Homo sapiens: one gene and its partners. The protein of the gene in region 4 interacts with the protein of the main gene of each other region in a pairwise test. Each region holds a gene or a part of one and is shown on either strand. Other genes may lie near its edges.

Evidence for each region.
Region 1: the proteins of RBSN (region 4) and VPS45 interact in binary tests that used the Homo sapiens proteins (3 or more experiments, as listed by UniProt).
Region 2: the proteins of RBSN (region 4) and EHD2 interact in a two-hybrid assay, tested with the Homo sapiens proteins (one study listed by BioGRID and IntAct).
Region 3: the proteins of RBSN (region 4) and EHD3 interact in binary tests that used the Homo sapiens proteins (3 or more experiments, as listed by UniProt).

Annotation. Positions count from the first base shown.
Region 1 is NC_000001.11:150,140,773-150,145,864, forward strand, and holds the end of VPS45 (vacuolar protein sorting-associated protein 45), read left to right. Parts: intron 1-2,065; coding exon of another isoform or gene 2,066-2,159; intron 2,160-3,936; coding exon 3,937-4,024; coding exon of another isoform or gene 4,025-4,149; 3' UTR 4,150-4,557; downstream 4,558-5,092. UniProt on the Homo sapiens protein: May play a role in vesicle-mediated protein trafficking from the Golgi stack through the trans-Golgi network.
Region 2 is NC_000019.10:47,730,417-47,737,454, forward strand, and holds part of EHD2 (EH domain-containing protein 2), read left to right. Parts: intron 1-5,952; coding exon 5,953-6,117; intron 6,118-7,038. UniProt on the Homo sapiens protein: ATP- and membrane-binding protein that controls membrane reorganization/tubulation upon ATP hydrolysis. Plays a role in membrane trafficking between the plasma membrane and endosomes. Important for the internalization of GLUT4.
Region 3 is NC_000002.12:31,265,124-31,269,961, forward strand, and holds the end of EHD3 (EH domain-containing protein 3), read left to right. Parts: exon of another isoform or gene 1-817; intron 818-1,053; coding exon 1,054-1,581; 3' UTR 1,582-4,328; downstream 4,329-4,838. UniProt on the Homo sapiens protein: ATP- and membrane-binding protein that controls membrane reorganization/tubulation upon ATP hydrolysis. In vitro causes tubulation of endocytic membranes. Binding to phosphatidic acid induces its membrane tubulation activity.
Region 4 is NC_000003.12:15,075,114-15,082,151, reverse strand, and holds part of RBSN (rabenosyn-5), read left to right. Parts: intron 1-1,349; coding exon 1,350-1,420; intron 1,421-3,990; coding exon 3,991-4,077; intron 4,078-4,987; coding exon 4,988-5,090; intron 5,091-6,441; coding exon 6,442-6,546; intron 6,547-7,038. UniProt on the Homo sapiens protein: Rab4/Rab5 effector protein acting in early endocytic membrane fusion and membrane trafficking of recycling endosomes. Required for endosome fusion either homotypically or with clathrin coated vesicles.

The DNA of each region.
Region 1 (5,092 bases), on a different chromosome or scaffold from region 4:
TAAAAGCTTCATAAGCTTGCATGGAAAATGGACATACAGACAAATAAATTACAACACAGTATATTTACAAGATATGGAAGAATGAGTACGTAACTCTAAGGGGAAAGCAATGCAGTTGAGGAAAGCTTCCTAGAGGAGTAATAATGTGAGAGTTGGGTTTTTAAAGATGCATAGTTCCACCAAACAAAGTGTGAGATGGATGGGACAGCCTTTGAATAGCAGGTGCAAAAGCAAAGAAGTATGAAACATAGCAGTGGCTCTGAAAACTGCAAGCCGTGGAAGTTGAGAGGTGAGGAGCATTTTCAGTGTTTTAAGCTATTAATAATTTCATCTTATCCTTCTGCCTTACCCACTCCCATACTCCTAACTTCTCCAAGTAAGTGTTTGGCTGTAATTAGGAGCTTATTACTCCATTAAGACAAATATCTTGGGGTTTTTCTCATTATTTTCCTGAAAGTCTTTTTCTATTTTTCTGCTCCCCACAAGTTCTATTTTTTTAATTATTATAACACTATTCAGGTTCTAGATTCCCCTTGGTGTCTTTGGTATAAGAAATTCACATGTAATTTTTACCTGTGGAGTATAGTGAAAAAGGAGGAAGACATATCCTTAAATTATATACACATACACACACATAGTTTTTGTTACAGTATGATAGCTTTGTTTAGGAATAGAAACACAGTTGTTCAGCTGAATTATTTTAGTAATTAATATTTTTAATCCTATAAACATTGGTCTCTAGTCCCTTACCAGTGATGTAAGTGGAGAAGCTTGCTTTTCAGTGTGTGACTCAAGACTTCTCAAGGTTGACTTTTTAAAATCAGGGTTGGGGTTCTGCTTTTTTCCACCCACCTTCCTTCTATACATGGAGTCAGGAAAACACCCTTGATGACAGCACAAACTAAAAAAAGCAGTAGCATTAATCCACTCTGTTAGTTTCTGGCACTGCCTCTGTTTATACTCATATTGGATTGTGATTGTGTATCTGTCTCTGAGAGTCCCTTAAGGTAGGAATCATAACTAAGGTGTACATTTGTACACCTAGTTCAACACCTAGTTCATAATGGATGCTCATTAAACATTTGTTGAATTGGATTGAATTGAACTGAATTGAACTGGACTATGGCACCAACGGAGAAGGGGATTTTTGAGTTTGCTTTTAAGTGAGATTGATTTAAAATGAATTTAGAAAGAAAAATTATTCTTTTTGTTTTGTTTTTAAACATAGTCTAAATTTGGGGTACAGCTAGCAATATGTTCATTCGCCATAATTTTTTAAGCATTCTGAGCAATGACTCATTAGAGTCCCCAAATAGTTTTTTTTTAAGTCATAGTGGCCCTAGGAAACAAAATTAGGCTGGTAAATATAAATAGTAAGTGTGTTCTCATTATAGTCAGGAATGTGGGGTCTTGTTGATATACAGAGGAGGATCTTTATTTCTTCCCTTTGTAGCAGAGTTGGAAATGAACCAAAGATCCCCTGATAAAATTCCTATAGGGCTTCCCAGCACATTTATTTCATTCTTTCTAGAAGTCATCAAGACTTATTGTGTTATTGTTCAAAAAAAAATCAGTGCTACCTCATTTCCTAACACTTGTTTTCTGACCTCCAATTGTGTCTAGTCCAACTGGCCAAAAAGCCAGGCCAAAGATGTCTGTATTTCCATAGAGGAACAAATGAACTTAGCTTCTACTCCTTTCCCTCTACTTTGCAATTTTTTCTTTTGCAAAGGAGTTTGGAATTTAAATTCTCCAAGCCCAGAATCTTTCAATGCAAGATGGTAATAAAACTGCAAAACAATGGTAATAACTGGTCATTCCTCCAGTCCTCTGTCTTTTAAATATCTGTCTGCTCTGAGAGAGAGTCCTGAGCATCCAAATAACTTGTTGTTGTTGCTGTTGTTGTTGTTGAGACAGGGTTTCACTCCTGTCGCCCAGGTTGGAGTGCAATGGCACAATCTTGGCTCACTGCAACCTCTGCCTCCAGGCTCAAGCAATTCTTCTGCCTTAGCCTCCCAAGTAGCTGGGACTACAGGCACCTGTCTAATTTTTGTATTTTTTATAGAGATGGGGTTTCACTATGTTCCCCTGCCTGGTTTCGAACTCCTGGGCTCAAGCGATCCACCCGCCTCAGCCTCCCAAAGTGCTGGGATTACAGCGTAAGCCACTGCACCCGTCCATCCAAATAACTTTTATATTATAAAGAAGGCTGTCTTGCCAATGGGTAGCTATTTTATTCATTTACTCAGCATAACTTTATTGGATACCTCTGTGTTAAGCCCTGGAGATCTAAGGTGAGTAAGACTTCCCCCTACCTCCCAAGAAGCTCACAGTCTGTCTTGGCAACAATTATACAGTGCTAAGATAGGAGTGGGATAAAGTAATAACAGTAATTAGTTCAGCATGGAGGGGTCTGGAAGGGCTTTACAGAAAAAGTGACTTTTATGATTATGTATTTATGTATGTATGTATGAATGAGACCATGCCTGGCCAGAAAAGTGACTTTTAATCCTTAGTCTTGAAGAATAAGGTTCTTGCCAGGCGCAGTGGCTCACGCTTGTAATCCCAGCACTTTGGGAGGCTGAAGCAGGCAGATCACTTGAGGCCAGGAATTTGAGACCAGCCTGGCCAACATGGTGAAACCCGTCTCTACTAAAACTACAAAAATTAGCCAGCATGGTAGTATATGCCTGTAATCCCACCTAATCGGGAGGCTGAGGGAGGAGAATCGTTTGAACCTGGGAGGCAGAAGTTGCAGTGAGCTGAGATTGTGCCATTGCACTCCAGCCTGGGCAACAGAGCAAGACTCCGTCTCAAAAAAAAAAAAAGAAGATTTCAGCAGAGAAAGAATAGTCAAACATAGGACATAGTAAGAATAACTACTTGAGGTAGGAAAGCTCATGACGTGTTTAGGAACAGTGAGTAGTTGGGCATGGATGGCATAGAGGCTGCACTCTGAGAGATGGAACAGACAAGTGGGAAGCAGTATTGCAAGATGCTGAAAGGCACAGAATCTAGAGCCTGGATCTGAATCCCAGCTGAGCCACTTACTAGCTGTTGTGACCTTGGCAAGTCACTTAACCTCCCCTCTATAGCTTTGTTTCTTCGTTTTTTAAAATGAGGATAATAGTAGCATCTGTTTGACAGGGCCGCATGCATATATGCATATATACACACACATGGCTTTAAACGGTGCTCAGAACAAAATGAATATAAGTATTCTTTATTAGGGCACATTATGAAAGGCCTTGAACTGTACATTTTCCATAAGTAAAAGAAAGGTTTTAAAGCAGAAGAAGGGAGAGTATACAACAGGATATAATCTGTATTTTGTTTTATTTTTTAATTTTTTTTTTATTAGAGACAGGGTCTTGCTCTGTTGCCCAGGTTGGTCTCAAACTCCTGGGCTCGAGCAATCCACCCGCCTCAGCCTTCTAAAGTGCTAGCATTACAGGCCTGAGCCACCGCGCCTGCCTGTAATCTGCATTTTAGAAAAGTAACTCTGGTGCCACTCTGGAGAGTAGATTGGATAAGAAAGAAACTATAGACAACATACAAGCTCTGAGACAGTTTCAAGAGTACAGATAACAGGTGCTGATGTAACATGGTACTGAGTTAATATAGTGGCCTTGCCCTTAAAAATTCTGGGATCCTAAATAGAAACTTCAAACTTGAAATGTTAGTCTTAATAGATCTTACAAATTTAATTCTAAAAAAAAAATGAAGACCCTGGGGAAGAGCACAGAAGGACTGTCCTTGCAGTATGGATGTTGTAGTGCTCAACTGATGCTTCCATTCTATACCCAAATATCAGACCAGTACCTCCTGCCTACTATTCATGATATATTTTCATCTGGTTAGATGTCCAGAGCAAGACATTCTATTTTTGGAGATGCTTTTGTTTTTTCCTTCAAGTAACCTCAAACTACTTATCAGTTTCCTAGAGGAAGTTCTGGCTTCTGGACTGCACAGCCGAAGCAAGGAGAGCTCTCAAGTCACATCAAGGTCAGCGAGCAGAAGATGAAACGGTGGTTGGGGGAAGGGCACAGCTTCCTCTCTTGTCCCCACTACAGGTTTTCCCTACTAAACAAAGGTGTTGGAGAGCAGCTTTGGGTTCTGTGCTGGTTGTTAGAACTCATCTCCAGGTAGCCCACGGATACGTGGTTGGCACAGACACAAGACTCCCAGAGTTGTCCTAACAATAAGTCTGAGCCCATCTCAACCCACTTTTCTCCGGTAGTCTTTATGTATCTGTTAGCACAATCACTTCAGTTACTGATGAATTTTGTTGGGATCTGACTTGGGGAAAGGGTTATCAGAGCCTAGAGGGGCTTAAAAAGTAATCATTTGATGTACATACCACACTCCTTGGCTTCCTTTCTCTTCCCTTAACCCTTTCTGCTTTTCATTAACCACATTCCTGCACAACTCATTTCTGAAAACCTACCATGTTTCTTTACAGAGCCATCCAAAAATTTTTTGTCCCTACATAGCAATTTTCTGTGGCACTGAGAAACCATGTATGACCACAATAAAAATCCATTTTGTGAAAGGATATGAGTGATTTAGTTTTATTTCTTTGAGGCTAATTTATGGGAATTTATGAGGTGGGACATGAGCTGGTTTCACACCAAACATAATGAAGGCATTACTTCTACCTGAAGGATATTTAAAGTATGTCAAGGCAAATAATAAATTCTAGTGTCAATTTCACCTCTCTTGAAAACAGGAGAAAGTGACAGTATCATTATTGCCAGGAAATTAAGGCATCCTCAAATCATCATAGCAAAAATACCAAAGCACAATCCCTCCCTGTTTTGTGTGTGTGTGTGTGTGTGTGTGTGTGTGTAAACTTGTATGTTGACAAATATTCTCTAGCATCAGACAGTAAGGGTCAAACCTATGTCATATTTATATGGCTTTGGGAATATTATTTAGCCTCTTTGTGGCTCAGCTTTCTCATCTATAAAATAGAACCTTCCTCATAGGATTAGAAGAATTAAATGAGATGAGATGATACATGAAAAGTGCTTAAAACACTGGTATACGGTAATCATTTAATAAAATTTGGCTAATAGTAAATAAGATTAAT
Region 2 (7,038 bases), on a different chromosome or scaffold from region 4:
CCGTTCAGGACACAGGAGCATGGGATTTAGGGTCCGCTGTGACCAAGGCTCACTGCCCCTCCTTTGCCCCGTGTCGCACCCCCACCCCTGCTCCTCACATATGAGTCCGCCACACTTGGTCGTCACCAACAATAGCCATACTGTTAACCTCCCCTCATGCTCTCCTCCAAAGATACCAGGCCTTCCTGGACTCTCTGGGAGGAGGCATTCACCCTCCTCCCAGTGCCTCAGTTTCCCATCTGTACGATGGAGGGTGTGGACGAATCCTCTGGCTCTAAGTCCTTTGGCTGAAGTGATAGCTGTTAGAAGGGGAGATTTTATGATGCTGTGATACGTAAGGCCAAGATCTTGGGAGGGTCTGATTCTATAGACGCCAAGATGCCCTGAACCTTCAGACCACATTCTCTGCAGTGGCCCAGTGACATTCATTCAGCAGTTGCCGATCGCATGTGGTACTCCTCTAGGCTCTGGGGATACAGCAGGGAACACAGATAAATTCCTTTTCTCATAGAATTACTTTTTAGTGGGGAAGCAAACATTAAACAAATCAATGGTTATGAAGAAAAATGAAGCGGAGGAAAGAGGGGCTGGCGAGGGACTATTTTAGAGCGCTCTGAAGGAGAGGAAGGGGTAAGAGGAAGGGGTGAGCCGAGTGGCGATCGGGTGGAAGAGCAGTCCATGCAGTGAGAACAGCATGTGCAAAGGCCCTGGGGCAGCCATGCACTTGATGTGTTTGAACTGAGAGCCTAACGGGGCTGGAGACAGGGTGGTGGTGGAAGGTGGAAGAGATGAAGATTTAGAACCAGTCAGGGACCACCAACGTTCTCAGCAGTCTAAATTTGTGATTCTTTAAAAAAAAAAAAATATATATATATATATATATATACATATATATATAATTTTTTTTTTTTTAGATGGAGTCTCTCTCTATCACCCAGGCTGGAGAGCAGTGGCATGATCTCGGCTCACTGCAACCTCTGCCTCCCAGGTTAAAGTGATTCTTGTGCCTCAGCTTTCCGAGTAGCTGGGACTCCAGGCAGGTGCCACCACACCTGGCTAATTTTTGTATTTTTAGTAGAGATGGGTTCTCACCATGTTGGCCAGGCTGGTCTCGAACTCCTGACCTCAGGTGATCCGCTGGCCTCGGCCTCCCGAAGTGTTGGGATTACAGGCATGAGCCACTGTGCCTGGCCTAAAAGAATTTTTTAACTAGTCTTTTTTATTGAACATTTAAGACCATCTCATGGAAAGGCATTCATACTTTATCAGACATGATTCTCCCACACCTCACCCCACCAGCTCCCAGGGCCTCTTTTCTAGAGGCAACCCCCATAAGTAGTTTCTTGTGTGTCTTTCCAGATATACTGCATTTTTTTTTTTTTTTTTTTTGAGACGGAGTCTCGCTCTGTCGCCTAGGCTGGAGTGCAGTGGCATGATCTCGGCTCACTGCAAGCTCCGCCTCCCGGGTTCACGCCATTCTCCTGCCTCAGCCTCCCGAGTAGCTGGGACTACAGGTGCCTGCCACCACGCCTGGCTAATTTTTTGTATTTTTAGTAGAGGCGGGGTTTCACTGTGTTAGCCAGGATGGTCTCGATCTCCTGACCTCATGATCCGCCTGCCTCTGCCTCCCAAAGTGCTGGGATTACAGGCGTGATATACTGTAATCACGCCCGGCCAATATACTGCATTTTGTAAAAGCATTTATTTATTATTATTTTGTTTTGAGACTGAGTCTCACTCTGTCGCCCAGGCTGGTGCAATGGCACGGTCTCAGCTCACTGCAACCTCCACCTCCCAGGTTCAAGTGATTCTCCTGCCTCAGCTTCCCATGTAGCTTGGATTATAGGTGGGCACCATCAGCCCGGCTAATTTTTGTATTTTTAGTAGAGATAGCATTTCACCATGTTGTCCAGGCTGGTCTCTAACTCCTGACCTCAGGTGATCGACCCGCTTCAGCCTCCCAAAGTGCTGGGATTACAGGCGTGAGCCACCGCGCCTGGCCTATTTATTCATTTTTTTAGAGACAAAGGCTCGCTGTGTCGCCCAGACTGGAGTGCAGTGGCGACATCATAGCTCACTTCAGTCTCAAACCTCTGGGCTCAAGTGATCCTCCCTCCTCAGCCCCGGCAATTCACTGGGACTATAGGCGCGCGCCAGTACACCCAACTAGTTTTAAAATTTTTTTTTAGAGACCAAGTCTTGCTATGTTGCCCAGGCTGGTCTCGAACTTCTGGCCTCAAGTGATCCTCCCCCCTTGGCTTCCCAAAGTGCTGGGATTATAGGCATGAGCAATATTTAATTTGTGAGCTTCCTATAAAATATAGACATACCAATATTCATTATTCTGCTCTCCTTGTTTATTTTTCGATAATTTATAAGATTGTGGACCAGGTGTGGTGGCTCACACCTGTAATCCCAGCACTTTGGGGGACCAATGTGGGCGGATCATCTGAGATCAGGAGTTCAAGACCAGCCTGACCAACATGGAGAAATCCCATCTCTACTAAAAATATAAAATTAGCTGGGCATGGTGGTGCATGCCTGTGATCCCAGCTACTCAGGAGGCTGAGGCAGGAGAATCGCTTGAACCCAGGAGGCAGAGGTTGCAGTGAGACAAGATCGCACCACTGCACTCCAGCCTGGGCAACAGAGTGAAACCCCATCTCAAAAAAAAAATAAAAAATAAAAAATAAAAAGATTGTGTTTCAAAGGTTCTCAAGTTCATTGGTTTATTCCACAAATATTTCCTGAGTGTTTTCTGTACAGATTGTACTGGTGCTGGAGATGGAGGGAACAGACAAGTTTCCAGCCCTTCTGGGGCTCCTTTTTTTTTTTTTGAGACAGTGTCTTGCTCTGTCACCCAGGCTGGAGTGCAGTGGTATGATCATGGCTCACTGTAGCCTTGACCTCCCCGGCTTCAGTGATCCTCCCATCTCAGCCTCTTGAGAAGAGAAGATTAATAAATCAAGACATTAGGCCAGGCGCGGTGGTTCATGCCTATAATCTCAGCACTTTGGAAGACTGAGGCGGGCGGATCACAAGGTCAAGAGATCGAGACCATCCTGGCCAACATGGTGGAACCCAGTCTCTACTAAAAATACAAAAATTATCATGGTGGCGGGCGCCTGTAGTCCCAGCTACTTGGGAGGCTGAGGCAGGAGAATGGCGTGAACCCGGGAGGTGGAGCTTGCAGTGAGCCGAGATTGAGCCACTGCACTCCAGCCTGGGCGGCAGAGTGAGACTCTGTCTCAAAAAATAAATAAATAAATAAATAAATAAAGTCATTATTTGCACCACTGCACTCCAGTCTGGGTGACAGAGCAAGACTCTGTCTCAAAAAAAAAAAAAAAAAAAAAAAATCCACTGTCCATTTGGGAGAAAAAAAGAGTGAAGAAAGCAAAAAGCGAATAACGTCTTAGTATTGTTCTTAAAATAATTTTGACCACAGGAACCCCCGAAAGGATCTTGAGGACCCCTGGGTTTCCCTGGACCACACTTCGTGAATTGCTGCTGTAGGGCTTTGTCGGCTTCGGTAGAAATTTTGAACTTCAATAAGCAAATAGAGAGTTATGAGCAGCATCCCCTGGGCTCATGTTCCTTCCTGAAAAATGCCCTCTTGGGCCACTGCTGCATGGAGCAAGGGTTATTGGGGCAGGATGGGGAGCTGGGAGACCTGTCGGGCCACCTTGGGTGTCTCCCCAGGCAAGAGAGGATGACGCTCGAATGGACATGGTGGCCACTGAGGTGGAGAGAAATGAGAAGCAGGGGAGAGGCTGGGCGTAGTAGCGGGTGCCTGTAGTCCCAGCTACTCAGGAGGCTGAGGTGGGAGGATGGATTGAGCTGGGAAGGTGGAGGTTGCACTGAGCCGAGATTGTGCCACTGCACTCCAGCCTGGGGGACAGAGCCAGACCCTGTCTAAAAAAAGCAAAAAAGAAAAGGAAAGTAGGGGAGAGAGGGAGAGACATAGGAGGAGGCAAAAGGGACTCATTGATAGGTTGGATGTGGCTACTTAACAGGAGGAAGAATCAAATATCAAATCAATAATGATTTCAAGAGCTGGGTACCGTGGCTCCCGCCTGTAATCCAGCACTTTGGGAGGCTGAGGCAGGCAGATCATTTGAGGTCAGGAGTTTGAGACCAGCCTGGCCAACATGGTGAAAACCCCTCTCTACTAAAAATACAAAAATTAGTGGTGGCGGGCACCTGTAATCCCAGCTACTCGAGAGGTAGAGGCAGGAGGATTGCTTGAACCCAGGAAGTGGAGGTTGCAGTGAGCCAAGATCATGCCATTGCACTCCACCCTGGGCAACAGAGTGAGACTCCCTTTCAAAAAGAAAAAAAAAGTGATTTCTAGAGCCGGACGGGGTGGCTCCCGCCTGTCATCCCAGCACTTTGGGAGGCCGAGGCGGGTGGATCTCTTGAGGTCAGGGGTTCGAGACCAGTCTGGCCAACATGGTGAAAGCCAGTCTCTACTAAACATACAAAAATTGACCAGGCATGGTGGCACGTGCCTGTAATCCCAGCTACTCGGGAGGCCAGGGCAGGAGGATTGCTTGAACCCGGAGGTGGAGGTTGCAGTGAGACAAGGTTGCGCCACTGTCCTCCAGCCTGGGTGACAGAGTGAGTGAGACTCCGTCTCAAAATAAATAAATAAATAAAAATAAAATTTCTAGATTTCTGGCCTCAACTGGGAAGGCAGGGCTGGGGATGCCCTTTTCAGAGATGGGCACAGCTGAGGGCGACACAGCTCTGAGGGCTAGGCTCAAATTCCACTTAGGGCATCCTGGTATGGAGCTATCCAGGAATGTTGACAGGGCAATTAGCTCTGAGTCCTGAGCTGGAGGGAGAGGCTTAGGCTGGTATGCAGATTCGGGAGTGGACCTCTTGGAGGGGTGTTTAAAACTGGGAGGGACTCAGCTCACTTAGTTAGCAGAGAGGAGGAGCCCAGGGTGAGCCCCAGCAGGAGGAGGCCATGAGGCTCACAGTGTGGCACCTCCGCCTGCAGCACCTGTAACTTGTCAGAAATGCAAATTCCCATCTGGGCAGTGGCTCTTGCCTGTAATCCCAGCTACTTGAGAGGCTGAGGCGGGAGGATCCCTTGAGCCCAGGAATTTGAGGCTGCAGTAAGTTATGATCGCACCACTGCACTCCTGGCTGGGTGATAGAGCGAGACCCTGTCTCCAAAAAAAAAAGAAAAAAAAGCAGGCCAGGCGCGGTGGCTCATGCCTGTAATCCCAGCACTTTGGGAGGCCACGGCGGGTGGATCACCTGAGATTAGGAGTTCAAGACCAGCCTGGCCAACATGGAGAAACCCCGTTTCTATTAAAAATACAAAAAAATTAGCCGGGTGTGGTGGCGCATGCCTGTTAATCCCAACTACTTGGGAGGCTGAGGCAGAAGAATTGCTTGAACCCAGGAGTTGGAGGTTGCAGCGAGCTGATTGCACCACTGCACTCCAGCCTGGGCAACAGAGCGAGACTCTGTCTCGAAAAAAAAAAAGACTGGGCACGGTGGCTCACACCTGTAATCCCAGCACTTTGGGAGGCCAAGGTGGGCAGATCACGAGGTCAGGAGTTTGAGACCAGCCTGACCAGCATGGTGAAACCCCATCTTTACTAAAAATACAAAAATTAGCTGGGCATAGTGGCGCATGCCTGTAATCCCAGCTACTCAGGAGCCTGAGACAGGAGAATTGCTTGAAGCCGGGAGGCGGAGGTTGCAGTGAGCCGAGATTGTGCTACTGCACTCCAGCCTCGGTGACAGAGCGAGACTCCGTCTCAAAGAAAAAAAAAGAGAGAGAGAGAGAGAAAAAGAAATAAAAGAAATACAAATTCTCATGCCCCAGCCCAGACCAAGTAAATCAGAATCTCTGGGAGTGGGGCCTGCAGCCTGTGTTTTAACAAGCTCCCTGGTGGACCCTGATGCAGGCTGAGGTGAGAACCCTTCCCACAGGTTCACGCTTACATCATCAGCTACCTGAAGAAGGAGATGCCCTCTGTGTTTGGGAAGGAGAACAAGAAGAAGCAGCTGATCCTCAAACTGCCCGTCATCTTTGCGAAGATTCAGCTGGAACATCACATCTCCCCTGGGGACTTTCCTGATTGCCAGAAAATGCAGGTGGGAAGCTGCCCAGGAGGGAATGTTGGGGGTGGGTGATGGGAAGGTTGGTTTCTGGAAGCTCTGAGATGGGACCTCAAAAGCCAGAGGGATGGATGGCAGGTTCTGGAAAGCGCCTCCCTCAAATAGTTCCGTGGGAGCATGGTTTTATGAGTCAGGCTAGGGGAGTGAAGAGAAAACCCAAAATAACAGTGGCTAAATTAAGATAGAGAGTTTTTCTTTCTTTCCTCCATAAAAAGTCCCAGAAAGTGATCCAGGACTGGTTTGGTGCTTTACAGAGCCAGGGATCTAGTCCCCTTCTGTCTTATTTCTCTTCCATGCCTGGCCTCCAGGCCCAAGGAACTTCATGGTACAAAAGGGCTGTGAAGGCTCCAGCCATTGTGTCTGCGTTCCAGCCAGCAAGAAGTTGGGAAGGGGGCCAGGCATGGTGGCTCACGCCTGTAATCCCAGCACTTTGGGAGGCCGAGGCGGGCGGATCACGAGGTCAGCAGATCAAGACCATCCTGGCTAACACGGTGAAACCCCGTCTCTACTAAAAATACAAAAAATTAGCTGGGTGTGGTGGTGGGCGCCTGTAGTCCCAGCTACTCGGGAGGCTGAGGCAGGAGAATGGTGTGAACCCGGGAGGCGGAGCTTGCACTGAGCCAAGATAGCGCCACTTTACTCCGGCCTAGGCAAAAAGAGCGAGACTCCGTCTCAAAAAAAAAAAAAAAAAGAAAAGGAAGTTGGGAAGGGGAAGAAAAGAGTAGTCTCTTTAAGAACACTGTTTATTTTATTTTCATTTATTTATTTGAGACTTAAATATTTATATTTGTAAAATATAAATATTTAAAATATACACAGCTGGGTGCAGTGGCTCATGCCTGTAATCCCAGCACTGTGGGAGGCCAAGGCGGGTGGATCACCTGAGGTCAGGAGTTC
Region 3 (4,838 bases), on a different chromosome or scaffold from region 4:
AATGCCTTCTTCTGGAATTCCTCCTGAAGGGCCTGCCTGAGGTTGTTTTACTGTTAACATTTTTTTTAAATAAGTAGAAAGAATACACCCTAAAATAACAATAAAAAGTACAGTATAGTAAATATTTACATAAACCAGTAACATAGCCGTTATCATTATCCGGTATTATGTACTCTATGGAAATGTGTGTGCTAGATTTTTATACCACTGGCAGCACAGTAGGTTTGTTTACACCAGCATCACCACAAACACATAATGCGTTGTGTTGTGTACAGTAGCTACAATGTCACCAGGCAACAGGAATTTCCCAGCTCCCTTATTGTCTTCTGGGACCCTCGTCATACGTGTGGTCCCTCATTGACTGAAACATTGTAATGCAGCACATGACTGTATTTTGAAAACTCTCCTCAGGTGACTCCGATGAGCATCCTGATTAAGAACCATAATTTGGGGATGACCTTTGGCTTCTGTTATGATTTGGTTTTAGTACCCTGTGCCCTGTTTGGTTTTTGTTTTTGTTTTCACTAAGTGGGGATAGAATGTGATTTTCCTACCTCAGAAGGGCGCTGGGGGAGTGAACGAGGTAATGTAGTGAAGGCACTTGCGGTGATTTTCAAGTACAGTATAACCCTTATTAAAGTAGAGGCCCACATGACCCAGTCTCAGAGGTACAGCATTCAAGAGACATGATTCAATAGCCAAAACTGACTTAAAGAGAAATGTAATGATTTCCTCTCTGGAATGACATTGAAGGGGATTGAAATAAATAGATCATGCCAATACTTGTTAAATTTCCCTTTCTTCCCCAGCCCCTACAACCCTTCTACCCCCTACTGAAAAATCCCATCATCAGCCCAGTGGGCCTTTATTCCCCTCCTCTCTCATACCTTCGATTACCACGTGATGTCCATCAGCTGAGCCTCTAGGTCACAGGTCTTTCATTGTAGAAAGGGATCAGCTGTGAACATTCTGGTGCTCATAGGAGGCACGTGATAAATGGAGGGCTCTCCTTTCATCGTATCCTATCTTCATCCTCTCTCCTCCTCTTCCCAGGACCAGCTGCAGGCCCAGGACTTTAGCAAGTTCCAGCCGCTGAAGAGCAAGCTGCTGGAGGTAGTGGACGACATGCTGGCCCATGACATTGCCCAGCTCATGGTGCTAGTGCGCCAGGAGGAGTCACAGCGGCCCATCCAGATGGTGAAGGGCGGAGCGTTCGAGGGCACCCTGCACGGCCCCTTTGGGCATGGCTATGGGGAGGGGGCTGGAGAAGGTATCGATGATGCTGAGTGGGTGGTGGCCAGGGACAAGCCCATGTACGACGAGATCTTCTACACCCTGTCACCGGTGGATGGCAAGATCACAGGCGCTAATGCCAAGAAGGAGATGGTGCGCTCCAAGCTGCCCAACAGTGTGCTGGGCAAGATCTGGAAGCTGGCCGACATTGACAAGGATGGCATGCTGGACGACGACGAGTTTGCACTGGCCAACCACCTCATCAAAGTCAAGCTGGAGGGGCACGAGCTGCCCAACGAGCTGCCTGCCCACCTCCTGCCCCCGTCCAAGAGGAAAGTTGCCGAGTGATGGGGTGGGGGGACATTCAGACGGGCAGTGTTAGAGGAGGAGATGGGAGCGGTGACTACACACACACACACACACACACACACACACACAAACATGCACACACACATATGCATATCTTGACATTGCTCTGTAGGTGAGAGAGGACCATGACGCCCATGTTTGCAGCTGATACTTGTTTGGGCACACCTCCAAGTTCTCGGGATTAGAAGGACAAGAGCACTCCCAGGCCCCAGAGTCTAAGCCTAAGTCTCTATCGCTCTTCCCCTCTCCTCGGCCACTCCCCAGATACCAGACCTGAGGCAATTCACTTGCCAGCACAGATGGCCAACCCACCTCCAGATTCCCCAGTGCTTCCACACCCGGGCTCTGAGCAAATGGAAAAGACTTTTCATTTAGTAGACAATTCACTTCTTTTTCTGTGCTTCCCCTATCTGCTTTGGCTTCCTAATAAGAAATCCATTCAAGAGCTAGGAGATCTGAGGGCAGGCGGGCAGCTGCAGGGAGGAGAGGTGAGAAAGGAAGCGTCTTCTAGAGACATTGGCCCAGGAGCTCTGTTCTTTCCTAATCTAAGCCTCTGTCTTCTTCGGCAAACCTTGCTTTGAACTCTGCCAGTATTTCATTTTAAAGAATCCCAGAGCGGGAGAGAGAAGAGAAAAAAATTGATAAGAGTGAGGAAATTGTCCTGTAGTCTATTGAAAACCAGTCAAGGTGGTTTTAGTTCATAGATTTTGTTAGATGTTCTTTCCACCTGGCCTATGATGTTTAGATGTTCATACTTGACTCACATTTACCCAGCCCCTCCTGCGTACCAGGAGCTGTGTTAGGCACTTTATATACATTATTCTATGTGGCCCTCACTGATGCCCCAGGGAAGTATGCATTAGCCTTCCCATTTTGCAGTTGAGGAGGCTGAGTAGCCTCAGAAGGGTTTAGGCGACCTTCTGAAACTCACAGAAGTCACGTGATGGAGAGAGGATTCAAAGCCAGGGCCTCAGACCCTCACACACTTGTCTGTGCTATGATGTATGCAGGATCCCAGCATTGATACCCAATGACAAACTATGGAGAACAAGCAAAGTATGCAGGCCCCCTGCAGCCTCCCAGGACAGGCTGGCAAGGGAGGAGGGCCGGCCAGCATTTGGTGGCCCATCAGTCTGGCCATCTGTCACGTCACAGAAGCAAACCGTGCCTTCTGGCTCTGCGCCCCATATTCCCAGCATCATAGACATCCAACAGCACCAGCAGGAGAGTGGGCTAGCCTGCTGGATGCTGTTCGTGCCTGTCCCTGCTCTGCCTCCCACCCAGTTGCCTGAATCATCCCAGCTCAGATGCAGCCACTGTCTCTTGTCAAGTGGGACCTCATACTATTCTCAGAAGGCTAACTTGAGAGGTTTGGGGCCTTGTTCCCCAGAGGGTCCCCAGGGACTCTGCAGTGTCCTTGGCAAATCCCCACTGTACTCAATGCCCTACATTCTCTTCTGTGGTCTCTCCCCTGGCTTGCTTCATGGCCACTGAACCAATCACTTTGTATGCTATGCTCCTACTGTGATGGAAAACAAAATGAGTATAACTTATTTTATATCCATATTCAGACTATATAGAGAATATTCTATGCATCTATGACGTGCTTACTACTGCAGTGCATTTGTCATTAGTCTTCATGTTAATACAGTACATTTATTCTTTGGTACCTGCCTGGCCACAGAGCATCATTCAATGGAGGCTGAGGGAGAAGGGCTGGGTTCTTACTTGGAGTTCCTGGTGAAATCTTTGGCTGGAAAGGGCTCACTGGGGCCACCCAATGGCCAGCATCCACAACCAGCTTCCCAGTGGGCTGGAGTTTGTCTAGGCTCAGTGACCAACCCAGGCACAGCTGGTGGAGCCACCGCTCCCTGCTCCTCTGGAGTGAAGATGTTCCCTAAGCCCCTGGGCTTCCTTCTGCAAATACACATTTCTCTTTCACATGAAATGAAGGGCAGACAAAGGCCAGGCAAAGAGGTCTCACCTGCTCTGGAGAAAACCCTTGAGTGCCGAGTGCAGGTTAGGGACCATTTCTCAACTCCACACCTTTCTTCAAGCTGAAGGAGAAATGGGAAGGAAATAGCAGAGGTAGGTGAAGTTCCTGTCTTTTTATTTTATAGGAAAGGGAGATGTCTGTTATCCCCTTTCTTCACTGCCACTGGACACACATGCCACTTTCCTGCCCTTCTACATATGCTGCCTCTCTTCCCTCTCTCCATCTTGAAGTCTCCACCCAGGAGAGACCTGTGAGGTGTGGGAATTCCATGTTTGCACAGCTCCCATCTCCCTGGAAAGAGGAACTGATGTTTGAGGGGACAGATGTGGGTCACTTTCCCTGGCAGTGCCCTCTAGCCTTGCTGCCTTGGCTTTCTGACCCCTTCCAGGCTTCAGGGGCCTGGGAGATCTCATGCCTCAGCCCAGGAAACATTTAATAGGGAAAGCAGAGACATGTCATGTCAGCCCCACAGACAAGAATTTCTAGAGCACTTGTCCTGTTGTTCCTTGCCCCGACATTACTCAGTCTGGGCCATGGAATCCATCCAATAAACACAGCAACACCCTATGCTACTGACCAAGCAAAGCTTGCCCCTGGTACCAAAGAGCTAAATCATGACCAAAGTGTGACATGAATGTAACTGAAATGCGGGTTAGTTGCTCAATGTATGCAAAGTCCCACGGACAAGAGTAAAGTCTGATACCAATAAAGTGAATGTATTCCAAAGCTAGCTTGGAGGAGGGGCACACAACGTCCTGCCTTTCAATGTGCCGCTTCCCCTTTGGAGCAGAAAGCAGGCACTTTTATAAGGTAAGGGAGCAAGTGAGCAAGGGTCCGCCTGATAGCATGGTGCCTTATCTACTGGACAGTTGAGTCGGGCCTTCCTGGGCAAAAATAAATTTTAAAAGTGGCCAAGTAGGCATACTTTAGATATAACCTCCTAGTGAATGAAAGTCCTGAGGCAGCCCCTGGAGGGTGGGAGTTCCAAGGCAACCCCTGGAGGTGAAAGCTCAAGGAGGGCATGTTTTGGTCTGCAAATTGGCAGTCAATTCTGGAGGACTATTTTGGAGCAGAGAGATGAACTTGCCCTGTAGGGAATGTCTAGTGAAGGGGAGATGAAAGCTTATATTTGCATTTCCCTTTTTTTGAGACAGTCTCACTCTGTCGCACAGGCTGGAGTGTAGTGGCATGATCCCAGCTCACTGCCACCTCTGCCTCCCAGGTTCAAGCCATTCTTGTG
Region 4 (7,038 bases):
TTCCTTGGCCACTTGAAAGCAGGTGGGTGGAAGCTTTGGTGGCCCAGAGGCAATAGGAGGAAGGGCAGTTGCCATGTGGTGTAGACAGGTTCTGTGGGAAGGGCAGAAGCTAGAGATGTTCATAAACAGTGGGCCAGAAGAATCCTGGGAAACTCACTTGGGAGTGTTAGACTTTACAAGTTTTAGAAAGTTCTACAAGTTTTCAGGCTTCACCAGTTTACTGAGTGTCCCCTTCTAAGTTTGTCCAAATGCCTCAGCTGTCGTTACTTGAGTGATCCCACAGCCCCCCTACTAGATGCATACTCTGAGAGGAAATAGTGTGCAAAGAATATCTGGGAGTGAGACTGGCTTGGTCCCTTAATGGCCAGGTGAGACCTGTGAGCTGAGGAAGACTAGCCAGGTGGACTGGGTGGGGAGGCAGTAAGAGATGCAGGGAAGAGATCAGCCCAGGCAGAGGAAGCAGCTTGTGCAACATTCTGAACAGAGGAAGAGTGTAATTTTGCCTAATGACCACTGAATAGTCATTGTTAGTAGTTCTGCAGGTCATAATGGCACTGTTTCTGGAATCCCTATGTAAATACTCAGGCTACTAGAAATGGTGTCAATTAAGCCCCATGTTGGGTTGCAGATGTAGCATTCTCCATCCTTTGTGTGGAGTTCACGACCTGGTATCTCATTTCTGTGAATACCCACGGTGCTTGTGCCACCTCCTCTTTTGAAGTAAGCCCTGGCAATGCCTTGTGCTGGTTTCCCATTGTTGCCTGGCATCACTTGGCAGAGAAAGAAAGTAGCAGCTAATTCCTTTTTGTCTTGGTAGACACCTTGGCTTGTGCCCTGGAAGCCTTGCTCCTCTCAAAAACATCTCGCCGGGCACTTTGGGAGGCCGGGGCAGGCAGATCATTTGAGGCCAGGAGTTCGAGACCAGCCTGGCCAACATGGCAAAACCTCGTCTCTACTAAAAATATAAAAATTAGCCGGGCGTGGTGGCAGCGTGCCTGTAATTCCAGCTACTCAGGACGCCGAGGCATGAGAATCGCTTGAGCCCAGGAGGCAGAGGTTGCAGTGAGTGGAGATCGCGCCATTGTACTCCACCTTGGGTGACAGAACAAAATTCCTTCTCAAAAAAAAACAAAACGAAACATCTGATCAGAAGCTCCATTCTCACTTTCTTTCCTTCCTACAAAATTTTCTGCTTGGAAAGTATGCCTATAAATCAGGAAATTGATAACAACAATTAATGTGTTAGAAAAGTGAACATTTTAAATATAGCTCCATTGATGGAGCCTAGCTTCTGGGTAGGTGTTTCTATATCTTGAGCATACCACTTACCTCTTTGTTTTTGTTCTTAGAAATTACGACTTTGCATGGAGAAAGTTGACCAGAAAGCTCCAGAATACATCAGGATGGCAGCATCATTAAAGTAAGCTATTCATCTATGTTTTTCTAATCCAGTGGTGACTGTTTTCTGGCATTTTAGGTCAATTCTCCAGTAGCCAAAAATGAAAATCTTAACTTCAACCGTGCTTTTTTTCTGAGACCAGCTGAAGTTGGTTTTTTTCCACTTTTGGCTATTATGAAGAGAATCATCTTCATGTCTGTCTTTTAGTGGGGTACAGGCTACCATCACATGAGCTTGTAGAAAGACAGCCACATTCAGTTGACCTTGGCTATTCTGACTGAGCAGGTTTGGGAAGGGCCTCAGACAATAGGTACTGCTGCTGAGTGCAGCATCTGGACAGAGCAGAGGAAGGGCAGTGGGTCTCATGCTCATGTCTGGGTAGATGCCACTTGAGTGTCACATTGAGGTGTCAGGGCTTAAAGCAGGCATGACCATTAGAGCAGGGGCTGGCAGACTGCAGCCCGTGGGCCAAATGTATCCTGACATCTGCTTTTTTTTTTTTTTTTTCCGAGACGGAGTCTCACTCTGTTGCCAGGCTGGAGTGCAGTGGCGTGATCTCGGCTCACTGTGACCTCCACCTCCCAGGTTCAAGCAATTCTCCTGCCTCAGCCTCCCAAGTAGCTGGGACTACAGGCACGCACCACCACGCTCAGCTAATTTTTTTATATTTTTAGTAGAGACGGGGTTTCACCATGTTGGCCAGGATGGTCTTGATCTCTTGACCTCGTGATCCACCCGCCTTGGCTTCCCAAAGTGCTGGGATTACAGGCGTGAGCCACCGTGTCTGGCCAACATCTGCTTCTTTTTTAAAATTGAGATGTAGTTCACACACCCTAACCTTTACCCTTTTAAAGTGTACAGTTTGGTGGTTTTTAGCGTATTCACAAAATTAGCGAACATTACCACTGTCTTCATTGTAAACATTTTTATCACCCCAGTAGGAAACCCCATACCCATTAGCAGCCACTGCCCTTTCCCCATCTCCCTGGACACCACTAATCTATTTCCTGTCTCTATGGATTTGTCTGCTTTTGACATGTCATATAAATAGAATCATAAATATAAAATCTCTCTTGTCTGGCTTCTTTCACACAGTGTACTGTTTTTCAGATTCATCCATGTTGTTGCATGTATCAGTACTTCATTCCATCTGTATGAATGCATTGCATGGATACTTGTCACATTTTGTTTATCCATCAGTTGATGAACATTTGGGTTTTTTCCACTTTTGGCTGTTATAAATAATGCTTCTGTAATATTTGAGTACAAGTTTTTATGTTTTTTGTGTAGACATGTTTTCATTTCTCTCGGGTAGGTACCTAGGAGTGGAATTGCTGGGTTTTATGGTAACTATATATTACCATAGAGTAACATTCCATAGAGGAATTGCTAAATCGTTTTGTGGAATGACTGCACTATTTTGCATTCCCACCAGCAGTGTATGAGGGTTTCACTTTCTTTATAGCCTTACCAACACTAGTTATTGCCACCTGTTTGCATAAAGTTTTATTGGAACACAGCCATGCCCATGTTTGATTACTGTTTGTGGCTGCTTTTGCACCACCATGACAGAGTTGAATAGCAGCAACAGAGACTGTGTGGCCTGCAAAGCTGAAAACATTTATGATTCGGCTCCTTATGGAAAAAATTTGCTGATCCCTGCTTAAGATCGTTGCTTTTTCTGAAGCTTAGTGTTTGTAACCTAGAAGTTAAAGTGCTAACTACTAGAGTCAGATCCCAGCAGTGTTTTCCCAACCTGTAGGAAAAGAATTAATTATGGTATCTAGTGTTATTAATTTCAGAGTTTTCTGTCTTTGTCTTAAACCTGTGTTGCCTATCTGCCACATTTAAAGCGATGCATGTAGTAGTAGATGTGCCTTTTTTAAAAACAAAACCATGTGTATATATATATTTAAAACAAAACCATGTATATATATATATATATATATATATATATATATATATATATATATGTATTTTTTTTTTTTTTTTTGAGACCGAGTTTTGCTCTGTCGCCTAGGCTGGAATGCAGTGGTGCGACCTTAGCCCACTGCAACCTCCGCCTCCCAGTTCAAGCAATTCTTCTGCCTCAGCCTCCTGAGTAGCTGGGATTACAGGCACCCACCACGATGCCTGGCTAATTTTTGTATTTTCAGTAGAGATGGGGTTTCATCATGTTGGCCAGGCTGGTCTCGAACCTCCTTGGGTACTTTTGAGCGAGAAAAGCCAAGTAGCTTTCTGCTCTTAATGTAGTGTAACCACTTCTTACATCTTGTTAGATATAGTGGAATTGTTTAGGAAAAGTAGGCCAGAGTAAATTCAGCCGCATTTGTTTTGGTGATGAGCATAAGGGCTAGTCCTTGGAGGCCTTGGCATGAATCTGTCCCTGTTGCGTCTGCAAATCGAAACATCACTTCCACTTGATTCATTCATTCCAAGAGATGGACACTGCATTATATCTGAAAGTCTGAAATGCCACCTTTAGAGAATTAACTGCCTTTGTGAGGCCTTACACCTTTAGCGTCCTTCTACACTATGCTGTCCAATCTGCACCATGAAACTTAGGTCACGTGTCTCTGGTTTCTCCTTAGTGCTGGGGAGACAACCTACAGTCTGGAACATGCCAGTGACCTTCGAGTGGAAGTGCAGAAAGTGTATGAGCTGATAGACGCTTTAAGGTAAGGTCCATTAAGTGGTATCCTGCCCGCTGGTGGAATGGAGAAGATGCTGTTCTAATGAAATGGCGAAAGCAGACCTGCACTCACTCAGACTTCTGGTGATGGGGCAGTGGGTGAGGAGGAGGGCAAGGAAGGGGCCAGCTCTGGCACTTAATGCATCTCAGTGACTTTTGTTTCGTTAAGGATTTCTAATGTTTGCTATTATTAAAGAAAGAGGAGCTGGTTATTGACACCTATCACCTGCCAGTCACTGGCTGTTTTCTCTAGAATAGCTCATTTATTCTACTGAAGTTACCCTGTGAGGTAGGGATTAACATCCTGTGTCAAAGGTGAGGAATCATGTCACAGATAGCAAAAATTGTGGAGTGAAGATAGAAACTCAGGTTCTTTCTTTGTGTCTGTGCTCAAGTCCACAGCTGCTTTTTAACTGTGGACTGGCCATTGGGGTTAAATTAGCCAGTGACTCAGAGGGAGAATAAGATGAGGTGCCTTTGTCCATCCAGACATACAGCAGGAGTTCGTAGTTGCAGGGCCTGGTACAAAATGAAAATGCATGTCCCCTGTTCAAAAGTTATTAAGAATAAAGACACTAACAGCAGAGCATTAAACCAAGCACAGGGCTCTTTTAAGTGCCAGTCCTTTCCAGTTGCATAGGTTGCTCACCTGTGAAGCTGGCTCTGCATGTGTAGTCAGTCACTCCATAACAGTGTTGTGCGCCCTTTGCTAAGGCCTGTGTACAGCCAAAGGGTAAGAAATGGGCTTTGCCTTCAAAGAAACTTCAATGGAGTCACTTGTCCATCTTTACACACCTTCCTGGCATGAAAGCCTGGCAACTCCAGATGTTATACTTTTCACCCTTGTTTCTGAAGCTGGCAGTGCTCATTATATTCATGTGTTTGTTCCAATTCAGTAAGAAGATCTTAACCTTGGGCTTGAACCAGGACCCTCCACCACATCCAAGCAATTTGCGGCTGCAGAGAATGATCAGATACTCAGCTACACTTTTTGTGCAGGTAAAGCCATCCTGGGTTGGCATAAATGTTGCACTTGGCCTGTCCTGCTCTTTTGCTTCCCAGGAGGCAGATCCATGCCAATGACTTGTTTACTTCCTATTTATACATTTATTATTTTTTGAAATTATGAATGCATGATGCCACACTTAGAGAAAAATCTGGATTTCAGAGAAAACTAAAACTACTTTTAATCCTATGTCCCCATTACAATCACTCATTATTCTGGTATGTTTTCTTTTTTCCCATTTGTATTTTTTATATACAGTAGTTACGATACTGCATATTGACTGTATATGCCATTCTTTAACCGTTTTCCTTTAGTTGGACATTTGATAGACTAATTTTTTGCTGCTGTTAAGTGTTGCCATGATAGTAATAATGGTACTTAGTATTTCTTCCTTAGGATAATCTCCTAAGAGACTCTTCTTGAGCCATCAGCTGGGAGGAAACAGCCGATTAAGGGCAGACTAACCTAAGTGGTTAGATCTGAATTGTGTCTTTCTATCCCTGAAGGCCCCTTCTGAGAGAGTCACAGTTAACCACTCTTGGGGCTCCCTGATAAAGAGATCTGTTTTTTTCTTTTTTTTTAAATTAAAACAAAGTGTTTTTTTTTTCTTTTATTAAATAGAGACAGGGTCTTACCATGTTGCGCAGGCTGGTCTCAAACTTTTGAGCTCAAGCAGTCTGCCCACCTTGGCCTCCCAAAGTGCTGGGATTATAGGCGTGAGCCACTGCACCCAGCCAACAAAGAGATCTAATAGACAGAGTCCTGTCAGGTTAGTTTTCTAACTCTGTAGTATAGAGAAGTAGGCCCTTCCTCACTTTGATTAGTGACTCTATTCAGCAATCATTTGTTGAGTGCCTCCTATGTACCAGGTAGTGTTTTAGGTGCTGGATGTCCTATAGTGAACAAAAAAGACCAACGTTCCTGTTCTCATTAAGCTTATGTTCTAGAGAAGGAGAGAGATCATAAACAACTAAAATATCTAGTATGTAAGATAGCAAAAGTGCTCTGGAGAAACTTACAGCAGGGAAGTGTGGGAGAGAGGGCTGGGATTGAGGTTTGCTAAGTTAATAGGATGGGCAGGGACAAGACCTCATAGAGAAGCTAACATCTGAGCCAGGTGAATAACTGGGATATCTGATGTTGATCATTTCATAAGGAAAATGCAGGCCCATTTGGAGTTGACTGTCTCACCCAATATGAGTTCTCTCCTTTCTAGCTGCTGTCAAATGATGTCACTCTCTGAGAACAGAGTGGCTCAGCTTAAGCAGACTCTCATCATGGGGCTTAAGGTTCATTTTTTCTCTAAAAGGGTTTAAGTGTAAAATTGTCTGTCACTCCCTGCAGGAAAAGTTGCTTGGTTTGATGTCACTGCCAACCAAAGAACAGTTTGAGGAACTGAAAAAGAAAAGGAAGGAGGAAATGGAGAGGAAGAGGGCCGTGGAGAGACAAGTGAGTGAAGCCAGGGATATGGGGCCTGCTTCCTCCTGTGGCTCTCAAGCACAGAGGCTGCCATGGGCTCCCAGGTTGTGTGCGGTTGTAGTGAATCAGAACCTCTCTCTCAAATGTGCATATTTCTTCTGTTGTGTTTCAGCCTCACTTTCATCTATGGGAACTAGAATAATTGTTTTTCTCCCCAGGGCCTATTTTTCTTTCAGAGCTTCTGCTGATTCTCTCATGGCTAGAATACCACAGAGATTGACAGTTCTCCCTATGGCAGGAGTTGCAGAGGACCAAGACATTAGGAAGTTCCTTGTAGAACATATCGGTATATGCAATATTAAACAGAAAATTATATGTGTATTTAACGCTGCGTGAGATTCCAGTGTAGATGAGGGGAACAGACCTTAGAGGTTTAAGAAAAGTATACGGCCTGTGAATCTAAGATTGAGAAAATCTGATGCCCTAACTTATTCATTATATTTTATTTTTGAAAATCAGGGT